3 separate regions of the Homo sapiens genome follow, and regions 1 and 3 are each reported to be linked to region 2. The links are microRNA targets in miRTarBase. Many come from high-throughput screens and were not tested one by one. Region 2 holds a microRNA gene; each other region holds the end of a gene's coding sequence.
The links. Region 2 holds the annotated microRNA hsa-miR-5047 (UUGCAGCUGCGGUUGUAAGGU, at 2,544-2,564, shown strand). A microRNA usually pairs through its seed, bases 2 to 8, with sites in the 3' UTR of a target mRNA and lowers its output. Matches are read on the target gene's strand: a 7mer-m8 pairs with bases 2 to 8, a 7mer-A1 pairs with bases 2 to 7 and ends in A, and an 8mer does both.

Region 1: miRTarBase lists KMT2D as a target of hsa-miR-5047. Seed matches in the 3' UTR shown: 7mer-A1 at 2,871-2,877 and 8mer at 1,268-1,275.
Region 3: miRTarBase lists CPEB3 as a target of hsa-miR-5047. Seed matches in the 3' UTR shown: 7mer-A1 at 2,959-2,965.

What each region holds. Positions count from the first base shown.
Region 1 is chr12:49,018,499-49,022,498 of GRCh38, forward strand. KMT2D (lysine methyltransferase 2D) reads right to left here. Exons shown (of 55, transcript NM_003482.4): 53 at 3,782-3,855; 54 at 3,545-3,653; 55 at 480-3,374. The coding sequence ends at 3,282. PRKAG1 (protein kinase AMP-activated non-catalytic subunit gamma 1) reads right to left here and starts at 278. Exons shown (of 12, transcript NM_002733.5): 1 at 234-278. The coding sequence starts at 242. It overlaps DDN-AS1 (DDN and PRKAG1 antisense RNA 1), which reads left to right. Exons shown (of 2, transcript NR_147179.1): 2 at 1-742. RefSeq lists an enhancer at 482-681.
Region 2 is chr17:64,499,655-64,503,793 of GRCh38, reverse strand. MIR5047 (microRNA 5047) reads left to right here and starts at 2,481; the gene lies at 2,481-2,580. It overlaps DDX5 (DEAD-box helicase 5), which reads left to right. Exons shown (of 13, transcript NM_004396.5): 6 at 223-364; 7 at 446-606; 8 at 696-868; 9 at 1,245-1,355; 10 at 1,571-1,632; 11 at 1,725-1,784; 12 at 3,021-3,245; 13 at 3,468-4,139. The coding sequence ends at 3,871. MIR3064 (microRNA 3064) reads left to right here and starts at 2,955; the gene lies at 2,955-3,020.
Region 3 is chr10:92,048,573-92,052,572 of GRCh38, forward strand. CPEB3 (cytoplasmic polyadenylation element binding protein 3) reads right to left here. Exons shown (of 10, transcript NM_014912.5): 10 at 1-3,867. The coding sequence ends at 3,640. Among named protein-coding and RNA genes, the nearest start is that of BTAF1, 130 kb to the left of the region's middle.

The DNA of each region.
Region 1 (4,000 bases), not on the chromosome of region 2:
TGCTTGGGCTAAGGGTACCGCGTACGGAAAGGCGGCGGGGACGCGGCCCAGTTCCAGGAGATGCGCCCAACGAAGAAGCGGAGGAACAGGGTCACGGGATAGGGCAGACACCCGGCTGCTTTTTGTTTGCTAGACACCAGCGCCAGCCCCTGCCCGGCCCTCCCGGTCTCCTAAGGGTTGGGGGGGTGTCTTAGGCTCCACAGCGCCCCCGACCGCCCTCCTGCACTCCTCACCGTCTCCATTGCAAGAGGCGCCCGGCTTGGTTTCCTCGCTTTAGGAAACTCTCTTGGGGCAGGCCCCGCCCCACATCCGGTGCGGCGACGCCACTTCCGCCCACGTCATGGCAGTCGCCAGACTGGGGCGGAAGGCAAGGAACCCACCCTTCCGGCGGTGGCGGGCCTCGGTAACCGCCCTCCCCCGGGTCCTCGCGGACCGCACGGATCCGGCTGACGGCGAGGGTCATGGGACGGAGCCGCTTGTATTTAAAATGTTCTTTTTTTATTTGTCGTTTAAAAACAAACTTGGAAGAAGCAAAATCCAAAACTTGCCCTTTGCCTCTCGCAACATAAATATGTACAGTTCAGAATGATCGCTGATACAAAACATGCCAAGGACAGGGGCGCTGAGGGTGGAGGGAGAGAGGGCGCTTTAAAAAAGGGAACCATTTCATCCGTTGTTACGAAGGACCAACCTTGCTGTACAGGATACACACAACACAAAATAAAGTCTTCACGGGATTCACACTTGTCAGCGATTTATTTTTTAAAAAGGGGGAGGGTCCTGGAGGTGAGGGGAGAAGACTGTAAAGGGGAAAACTGAAAACTGAGTATGTGCGAGTGTAAACCAACCCAAAATACAAACACGGGGGCGGGGGGTGGGGTGGGGGATTCTGATGCAATTATACAGGCAGGGTACTTAAAAAAAAAACCAACCAAAATTCCAACCTTGTAGCTTGGGTCTGAGTTATAGTTTATATAAAAATTAAAAACTGTATAAGGTTTCTTCACTAAATTCTACAGGACTATCGGATACCTAGCATATGCTTACAAAGTCTGCCCCATCCCCTTTTCCCAATCCCAGGGCCCAAGCCCCAAACACAGCCTGACTCACGGGAGCCAATCTCCCCCTCCCTGTAGCCTAGACCTTCTGCTCTCGGAAAAGGAACATCCAAGGGCTGTGGCTTTGAGGGCAGCAGCCCAGTCTTCCTACTGTCTGATTTAATTACAGCGGTTCCTGTGGGAGTGGGGGCTGTTATTCTCTTAAACATTTGCAGCTTGAAACAGTTGAGGAAGCAGCTTTAAAAAAAAAAAATCTCCCTACCCCCAACAATCCACAACCCCCCAAATTCAAAACAAAACAAAAACAAACCTAAAATCACAACAGCGACCAAGCTCCCCCTCCAGCAGGCCCGCCCGTCCACCACCACCAAGCCCACCCCTACACTCCAGACATCTGATTCTTGAAAATATTAATTACAAAATGCCCTTTGCCCACAGCCCCTAGAAGAGAACTGCATATAAGCTTCATCTTCATCCCCACGGTTCCCTACCAGAGAGGGGTTTGGGGCCTCACCCACCCCTTACCTACTCCCACCCCCAGGAAGAGGTTCAACTGCAGCACAAGCTTGGGCAGAAAGGGGAAGGAAAGGGAGGCAAGGAACCCATCACCCTCTGGCTCCCCCTGGGGTCAGCTCTCTTTTGTGCGTTATAACATAGTCCAACTATACAACAGGGGGTGGGAATTGCCCAGCCTCTATACCCCCATCTTACAGCAGTCACAGCCAGGGGGTGGGGAGTGGGGTGGGGGGTGAGGAAAAGGGCGGTAGGTCGGGTAATGGAGGGGGCCCCCCCACAAGGGGAGCTCCATGTGTCCGCCCCACACCCCCCTACCATTTATAAACTGGTTTTGTAAAAAGAAAATAGATATATTTATATAGAATATATAAAGCACAAAAATTAGTAGTTTTACATTTGCTCTCCCCGGGGGGTGGGGGGAGAGGGGAGGGTTCTCACCTCCAGCCGGCTCCCCCATGCCCCACAAGACTATGTACAATCCCATGTATAAATAGATAAATACCCCCCACCCTCCCCGCGCTGACACTAAGCTCCCCCACCCCCACATCACCACCCCTTCCCACCAGACCAGCAGCAGTTTGGTGACTGAGGGAAAGTGGGAGCTCCGGGCCACACCCTGCCTCACTAGGTATGGGCATGCCACTCAGGGATAGCCCTCACCCTACCCCCCACCCAACCCGTCCAGGGGCTGGAGGGCAAACAGGCTCATGATGAGGTTGGGAAAACAGGAGGGAGATATCCTGGTCCTAGGTTTAGCTCCCTCCTGCCCCCATGTCCAGATGGAGAAGGAAGTCCTAGAGCAACTAGGGGCCAGTCATCCCCAATCTTCATCATCATTTGCCTCAACCACCATCCCATGCCCATAATTAAAAACAAAGATGGATTTTTTGTTGTTGTTTTTCTTCCTCCTCCTACCCCCCTTCCACCCACTCAGAAGAGGGCAGTGAGGTGGGGGAGAGGGTTGGGGCAGTAGGGGGCTTGGAGAGGGTCTCACATTTCAAAACAGCAAAAAATCCAACACTTAAATGAGGTAGGTGTGGGTGCGGGGTCTCCTTGCCCGGCTTGCCCAGCTTGCCCTCCTAGGCAGCTGGGCGCCTCTTTCCCGTTCATGTTGCATTTGTCAGAGTGGAAAACAAGGAAACACAACCCATAGAGAGACAGAAACACAGAGGAAAAGAGGGAAACAGAGACAGATCAAGAGGGAGGGGGATGGGGGTGAGGGTGGGGGCAGGACCCGGCAGGCAGGGCCAGGTGTGGGACCCGGCCTTTGGGATTGTCAAGCTTAGTCAAGTCTCTTTGCAGCCGTGAGTTGGGCCGGAGAGGTCAGTGGGAGCAGCAGGGCTGTGAGGCCCGGCCACACATCCTCTTCCCCCACCCTGCTGCCTCCCAGATGCTTCTGGGTAGTTCCCGGCCCATATCCCCCTCAAACCTGAGATGCCCAATGGCTGCTTCTGTCTGGCCCCTCCTGGAGCTGGGGGCAGAGATGCCAGCCTGAGGGCCGGTGGTGGGGAAGAGGATTGTCCCTGGTGCCCAGGGTGGGCTTGGCCTAGGGCCCTCTGCCCCAGCCTCCTGCTCCAGGGGCTCCGGGTCAGCCGGCAGCCCCAACCCTGGGTCCTGGCTCTGGCTGCTACCTCTCTTCCCCCTCATCCCTTTCAGGGAAGAGGTTGTGGGTAGGGGGACTCCCCTGCCTGGTAGCCTCAAAGCTTCTTAGTTCATCCATTTCCGACAATTCCAGGCTCCACAGTGGCAGGGGATCTTGTGCTGATCGTCCTCAAAATCAAACTGATAGTCATAGGTTAGCTGAAAAGAGAAGAGGGCAGAATCAATGCTAGTCCCCCACAGGAAGAGGGGAGGCCAGAGAAGATATGATCTGAGGTGCCCAGCCTAGGAATCCACATTTAGGGAATGGCAGAGAAGGGGTGAAAGGAGGAGGAGCTGCTTTGTCACTCAGTCAGGATACTTCCTCTCACCTCCTCTCCTTTGGGGATTCGCCGGCTGGAGATGATGATGATTTTGTCCTCTTTGTCAAATGTCACGACTTCGGCCACACAGTTAGGGGCACAGGAATGGTTAATGTACCTGGGCAGTGGGACAGAGTCAGGGATGTCAGGCAACTAACTTGGGACAATTTTGATTCCTTGTTCGTCTATCCCCCAGAGTGCCACTCTCAGGGACCACTAAATCCCTCCTTCCTCGTCATCTCTCACCTGGCAGGGCCGCCGGTCAACGTAGCATCAATCACATGTTCATTGTTTATTCGGAACATGTAGATGCCTCGATTCTAGAAAGGCAGAGGTTGCAGAAGAAGGGACAAGAGTATCAGAGAGTGGCAGTGGTGGCTGTGGGATCAGGTAGGAGACTCAGGCAGTGGGGGCTTTTGTTGCATGTACTTCATTTCTCCTGCCTTTCCCTTCTCCCCACCACAG
Region 2 (4,139 bases):
TATTTTTAACTTTTTATTAGAAGCATAATGTGTAGATTTTAGACTACATAGCTAAAGATGTAATCATTTGTGGTGGTTTTATATAGAGGTTAGCTCACCCTATTCAGCTGGAGCTGTTTTGGGTATTGGACAACACATGAAGAAAGGATCTGCTAGTATAATAAGTTAGCAGTTTAAAACTAGTATCCAGGTTTGTGCTGAAAGCTGTTTCTCTTTCCTTAGTGTTTGGTGCTGGCACCAACTCGGGAACTGGCCCAACAGGTGCAGCAAGTAGCTGCTGAATATTGTAGAGCATGTCGCTTGAAGTCTACTTGTATCTACGGTGGTGCTCCTAAGGGACCACAAATACGTGATTTGGAGAGAGGTATGTAATGAAAAGGGTTTTATTTGTCATTGGTGCTAAATATCCTAGGTATTGTAGTTACACTTACGTATTTAATTAAAGGTGTGGAAATCTGTATTGCAACACCTGGAAGACTGATTGACTTTTTAGAGTGTGGAAAAACCAATCTGAGAAGAACAACCTACCTTGTCCTTGATGAAGCAGATAGAATGCTTGATATGGGCTTTGAACCCCAAATAAGGAAGATTGTGGATCAAATAAGAGTAAGTGTCCTTTGAAATATGTGATCAAACTGAATTGTGTTTTCACTCTTAAGAGTCTGATACTAATTTTTCCCCCCAAAATCCATTAGCCTGATAGGCAAACTCTAATGTGGAGTGCGACTTGGCCAAAAGAAGTAAGACAGCTTGCTGAAGATTTCCTGAAAGACTATATTCATATAAACATTGGTGCACTTGAACTGAGTGCAAACCACAACATTCTTCAGATTGTGGATGTGTGTCATGACGTAGAAAAGGATGAAAAGTAAGTTTTATTAACTCTGTTATATTTGCTTCCTAACAACTTTGCTGTAAAATTGAGGGATCATTGTTTGGTGAGTTGTTTTAGGTTATTTCAGTTGGTGTGATTTCATTTAGTTAGCCTACTAATCCTGAAAATTTCTTGAATCCTTCAAATAATGGCTGTCACCATTTATAGCTTTCCTATAGAAGGAATTCATGTGTCCCCTGGTTGACTTAAGGACCAAGGGTCGAACTGCTCGATAAGTGGATTAGCAGGCGTTTCCTCTTTGACTTCCAGCCATGTAAATTGAACTTAATGTTTTGCTGACCATAAATGTGTGGCCCTAGCAATGGTCTTTTAAAACTCAGGATTTTTCCTTTCTCTCTCCTATTATTAGACTTATTCGTCTAATGGAAGAGATCATGAGTGAGAAGGAGAATAAAACCATTGTTTTTGTGGAAACCAAAAGAAGATGTGATGAGCTTACCAGAAAAATGAGGAGAGATGGGTATGTGTGAGCTCCTCCATTGAAGCAGATTGATTAAAACAGCTTAGGAAAGGGCAAACTTGGATCACGAGCAGTGGATTTTTTTCATATCTGATAGTGAATTTAACTTTTTCATTTCTGGCGAAATTAAAGAGATCTGTGACCAAAAGTGGTCAAGCACTGGAGTCTGAGGTTTTCAATGTGAGTTTAATAACACAACTTGTCTTTTAACTTAGGTGGCCTGCCATGGGTATCCATGGTGACAAGAGTCAACAAGAGCGTGACTGGGTTCTAAATGGTAAATATTTCAAATGAAGTATTTTTCCCCCTTACTTAACCTAGCTAGAATTCTGCTCAGATAATTGATCATGTATATGCCTTCCTTTGTAGAATTCAAACATGGAAAAGCTCCTATTCTGATTGCTACAGATGTGGCCTCCAGAGGGCTAGGTTAGTACAAACTCGCATTCATGGCTTGGTTTCCCAGAAGATCTCCATTTAACTTTTTTAAAGAAAGTTTATTGCTTTCTTTAACCTGCATTTTTTCTAAGTTTTTTTTCACATAAAGGTGCTGTCTTTGTGGCAAGGCCTAGGCATGACAATCGGAGGACTCGAGGGGGATGGAGGACTAGTGATCGGCTGGCTGCTTCCAGTCGATTAGAGAGGTGAAAAAGCTGAACGTGTGCCAGTAATCTTCAAAAGGCAGAACATATCACCTCTGCCCCGTAAACTGTTCTCTCCGAGGGAAAAAATGGAAGTTATCCTCACAGTTCACTGCCGTGGTATTTCTTCTGTCCCATGCTTTGCATGACTGCCATGGTACAGCCTTGTTTCAAACTGTTCACTGTGATCTGTGGGTCTTTGAGTTTCAGTGAGTTTGCTGAAATGTCGAAGAAGTAGTTCCAAACTTCAATGTTCAATGAAATTTTTGTTCAAGTTTGAAATGGAGAGAGCAGCTTTAAAAGGTACTAAGCCTTTTACAAATTGGTGAGTACTGGCACATGAGATCTAGAGCAGGAGCAACTTCTCACACATAGTAAGTGGGAAAAGAAAGTGCTTTGAAAGTTCCTCCCTCACCTACACAGTAGTCGTCATGTCGAGACCTGCCAGAGAGAGACACATTCTCAAGTGAATCCTGGCTTCTTGGAAGCGCTTGCCTAGACGAGACACAGTGCATAAAAACAACTTTTGGGGGACAGGTATGTTTTCTTGCAGCTGCGGTTGTAAGGTCTTGGCAAGACAAGCAGTGTGGCCAGAATTTTGAACTTCTGATGAATGTGTAATGCAAAGGACCTTGTACATTTTTTTGTTTCAAGGTCCTCAAAATGAGCACATGAAGAGGTTGCTGTGAAACTTTAAGTGGCCCTACTGCGCAGAAGCATTCAGATGTCACTTGATGATCTGTAAGGGAACTTGCTGATTTGGGAATGTGCTTAGGGAACACACATTCCTTTTGACAGGGTCTGTCACTGGGTGGGTGATGAATTATACAGATGACATGTGCTTTTTTTTCTTTTTTCAACCTCAATGGTATTCCTACAGGAAATGGATAACCATTTTAACTGTATTTTTTGCAGCCCGTACCTTCTTGGGAATACAATTGTCTAACTTTTTATTTTTGGTCTGGCTGTTGTGGTGTGCAAAACTCCGTACATTGCTATTTTGCCACACTGCAACACCTTACAGATGTGGAAGATGTGAAATTTGTCATCAATTATGACTACCCTAACTCCTCAGAGGATTATATTCATCGAATTGGAAGAACTGCTCGCAGTACCAAAACAGGCACAGCATACACTTTCTTTACACCTAATAACATAAAGCAAGTGAGCGACCTTATCTCTGTGCTTCGTGAAGCTAATCAAGCAATTAATCCCAAGTTGCTTCAGTTGGTCGAAGACAGAGGTTCAGGTAAGGATGACTGATAGGAAATGTTGGTAGTTACGAGTCACATCGTTGTCTACAAATCCATTTAAATGGTATTGGAGGGTGAGTAAAACCTTGAATGTGAAAACTTAAGCTGAAAAATTGTAAAAACATTTCACGCCTACCATGAATAGATCTGTTTCTTTCTGTCCACAATGATTTGTGTCATAGACATAATTGATCAATTTGCAATTGTTTTCTTGACAGGTCGTTCCAGGGGTAGAGGAGGCATGAAGGATGACCGTCGGGACAGATACTCTGCGGGCAAAAGGGGTGGATTTAATACCTTTAGAGACAGGGAAAATTATGACAGAGGTTACTCTAGCCTGCTTAAAAGAGATTTTGGGGCAAAAACTCAGAATGGTGTTTACAGTGCTGCAAATTACACCAATGGGAGCTTTGGAAGTAATTTTGTGTCTGCTGGTATACAGACCAGTTTTAGGACTGGTAATCCAACAGGGACTTACCAGAATGGTTATGATAGCACTCAGCAATACGGAAGTAATGTTCCAAATATGCACAATGGTATGAACCAACAGGCATATGCATATCCTGCTACTGCAGCTGCACCTATGATTGGTTATCCAATGCCAACAGGATATTCCCAATAAGACTTTAGAAGTATATGTAAATGTCTGTTTTTCATAATTGCTCTTTATATTGTGTGTTATCTGACAAGATAGTTATTTAAGAAACATGGGAATTGCAGAAATGACTGCAGTGCAGCAGTAATTATGGTGCACTTTTTCGCTATTTAAGTTGGATATTTCTCTACATTCCTGAAACAATTTTTAGGTTTTTTTTGTACTAGAAAATGCAGGCAGTGTTTTCACAAAAGTAAATGTACAGTGATTTGAAATACAATAAATGAAGGCAATG
Region 3 (4,000 bases), not on the chromosome of region 2:
CTGTGACATCCCTAGTCTTACACTAAACCACTGTGATAAAGGAAAAGGCTTCTCAAAATCTCACATGTTCTGCTCATTCTGTCATTTTATTACCCAATTATCCATTACATTTCCAATCACTTTACATAACCAAGCATTTTCATCGTTGTCACACTATTGTAAACCACATCAGCAAGTTAATACATAAAGCTTTGCATTTCAAAAAACTAGACACTTTAGTAACAATATTACAAAGGTTTTAGCTTCAAAAATAACTGAAAATGAAAAAAATAAACTTTTAAAGAATTAGCATCATAAAATTAATTTATTCCAATAAAAATACAAAATAATATTATGACATTGACCAGATATGAAAGTCCCTCCCAGAAACAACTCTATTAATGATTGAGAAAGCACTCCTTAAAGAAAATACGAAATAAAATGAAAAATATGTAAATATGTTTAATTTTTTTCTTAGCAAAAAATCTTTCTAAAAATAACAATGAAAATTTGTCTCAGTACAAAGGCTACATTACTATTGAAAAAATACCAGCATGAAGAAAAGGTACATATTTGACAGTAGAAAAATGATTTCAGTGAATCACAATGTCTAAAGTTTGCAATGAAAATAAATCTGCAATAAAGATTTATGCCTTTTTTCTTTTCTTTTTTTTTTCTATTTTTTATACAAACAGTACAAACAGTATTGCACATAACAACAAATAGTCGAGGTTAGGTTATAGCCTTCAAAAAATCGACTAGTTCAAGTGTCACACCAAGGAAAGGCCACAGCAGGACCTGTGTTACCCAGGGGCTTCCCAGTCAAGTTGCAGGTCAGAACACCTCTGTGTTTTAAAAAATAATTTTTTTGAAGGACCCTCTCTTTTAATATAACATTAACAACTTGGGGGCACATTTATTTACAAAACAAAAGGGAACATGTTATAATTTAATAAACTAAAAAAGTTCTCTTTAAAAAAATACAAACAGAAGAACTCTTTCACAATCCTGGTCAGTCGCGCACAATCAACACTTGATTAGAAATATACAAATTAAGGGAAAGTAGTTTCCACCATCTATTCACAACTTTCAGCACCAAATGGAGTTTATTTTTTGTAACCTATTCTTCAGGACAATGTTTTTTGCCTTCACTTTAGCTTTATGCTGTACAATCTTCCAGCTTTTAAAAAAATCTCAGTGTTATTTTAATACATGAAAGAGGGGTGCTTCTTCAAAAAGTTTTGCTTCTTTCACATAATTAGGTAGATTTCTGTAGGTTAGATATGATCTTTAATATTATAGTTATAAAGCTCTAACTTCTTCATTTTCAAAAAACACAAATAAGCATGAAAAAAATAAAGTTACCCATCTGTTAAATCATTTTCTTGCAGAATTAAATTAATATATATTTTTCTGAATAAACTTACTTAGAAAATATCATTTTCTTTCCTATATTTCAAAATTGAGGTATTGCAAAAGATCATGTCAGTCAGAAAGCATGCCTTTTTCCTTAAAAACAAAAAAAAAAATCTGCCAACTTTTGAAAACTGTCTAGAATACAAAAAGTAGTAGTGCATAACAAAATTTCTTGTACAGATGAAAAAAAACCCACAAACATAGAAAAAAACAAACAAAACCACACCTGGGCTGGAAAAAAGCAATTATTACCAAAAAGCCTCAAAAAGGGGAGGATTCTAAAATAAGCATTTTTAATCCAGTAAAAAACTATTTTGTTTTTCCTTTTTGAAAACAAACTATAGCTTGAGAGCCAGTAATTGCAACTAAACATGGGAGAACAAAACAAAAACAAGCAACACTAACTTAAGACAGTACAAGGACATCACAGCACAGAAAACACAGCGACTTAAATCTATTCTGCAGTGTCATATCCAGTCAGATTGTCCCCAGAATTCCAAAACATAGGAAGAAGATTAAAAAAAGATTTACATAGTCTTGCAATCATTGTGTGTGTTTATATATTACTATCTGCAGCCCAAGGGTGAATGCTAGAAAAATGTCCACGCTAGTGCTAGCAGGCCTTCATTCTAGACCACGCTAGTGCTAGCAGGCCTTCATTCTACTCAAGCTTAACAGGATAAATCCAGGGAATTAAGTAGTTAGTTTCTCACTCAGACAACCAACTCTGCCCAGGCCATCTTATTTTGTACAGACATTTCTTTAGCATCACCATTACACAACTTTCTTAAAAATGTGCCTAGTTTGTCAATCTGACAACTTATCTCTATATCCTGTATATATTCTTAGTGTTTGTAAGCTAAGATGAGCTCTTTGGTTTTCTGGACAAGGTCTGAAGCTATGTAAAATGGTGCAAGCACTAAGAGATTGTAACTAAGAGCTCATGTGTTAGTTTATAATATATCAGTTATGAACTGTCAAGTTCATTAATGTCTGACAGAGGCTTTAAACAGTTAAGTTTGATCACAGTTAGACATAATCACTTTACTATATAAAATAAATTTCACAATATATAACAGAGCACCGCAAAGTACTTCATCTACCATCCACAAATTTGCTTGAAGAATATCCTACACCTAGGTTTTATATCGGTTGTAATATAGGTCATTCTGTTATGGGCTCTTCCCATTCAGAGCATTCCATTTATTGAGGCATGCCTTCCTCCGGTCAATTACCAATTCTTTGAATGAAAAAAACTTTTTTTAAAAAATGAGTATTTTTATAGCTTATATAGATTCTTAATTTGTGCATTGTGGGAACGTTTTATACTAGACATTGGATATAAAATTTATTGCATGCAGCAACCTGATTAAGTAAACATGCAGTCAGAAATAGTGACCTTCCACCGAAGCTTTCTGAAGTCTATTCTGATCTCCGTTCGGCAGCTGACTCTATCCCTAAAATCACAAAAGTGTGTTGTTGGGTTTTTGTGTTTAATTGATATCCTAGCCTGAATAGAGTATTATGGTATTAATAATACCATTTTAATAGCAGCAAAAGCTATTGCAGCATAAATTTACATAATACTAAAAGATCTAACCAAAATCCTCGGCAAAACAAAAATCAAACATGAAGGAAAAATAAAAGATCCAGCTTATGAGGTATCCTTACAAGTCAAAATAGAGAGCAACTAAAGGCTTATTTTCATGAAGGGTTATCCTTACTCTAAGTGACCCGAGCTAATGATTGCTGAATTGTTGTGAAGTTTTTGCTACATCTGCCACCTACTCACGAGTATTACCTTTGGTAAGTCTTGTCCTAGGGGCAACTCTCTAAGTTTCTGAAAATAAGTGCATGCTCCAGTTCAAAACAATCAGAACAACACCACAACAACAAACAAAAGAATCACAGACAGTAGCCTGACGGCCGCTGATGAGAATGGCAGTCTACATACTGTCACGAGTGACAAATCAGGTATAAAAAATTAAGGTACCAAGCAGACAAAGGTGTGAATCAAAGTGCAAATCAGTACCATTCTACACTCTGCAATTCTGCATTATACTGGACACTGAGTTCAGTAATATGACTGTAAATAATAATAATAATAATAAAAAGACCCAATTCTTCTTTAAAAATCGAGAACGAATGCACAGATTTCCAGAACACTGTAAGCCCTGAGGCAGTGCCCTCTCTTTTCCCTCCTTGTTATCTACTCCAGTACTTGTGGCTGGGTCGGCCCGTGGCTCAGCTCCAGCGGAACGGGACGTGACGAGGGCGGTCGCCTCCCTCCTTCACCAGCGGTTTGTGGAACTCCCGCCCGGCTCGGGAATGTATGCTCGCCCAGCAGTATTCACAGTAATACTGCAGACAGGTGACGTTGGCACAGAAGAACGGGGCAAACTTCCCACCACAGCGTGTGCCCTGGCACTCATCACACATCTGATCATCCAGCACATATGGCTTTACTTCAACCTGGACCCAAAGAGGAAAGACAGAGAAAAATGATTTAGCAAAGCTTCCTTACATGTCTTGCTTTTGAGAGTTTACACTATAGCTTCAACGTATGTCTCAATCAGACGCTGCTTTCAACTCTGCTGATACTGGA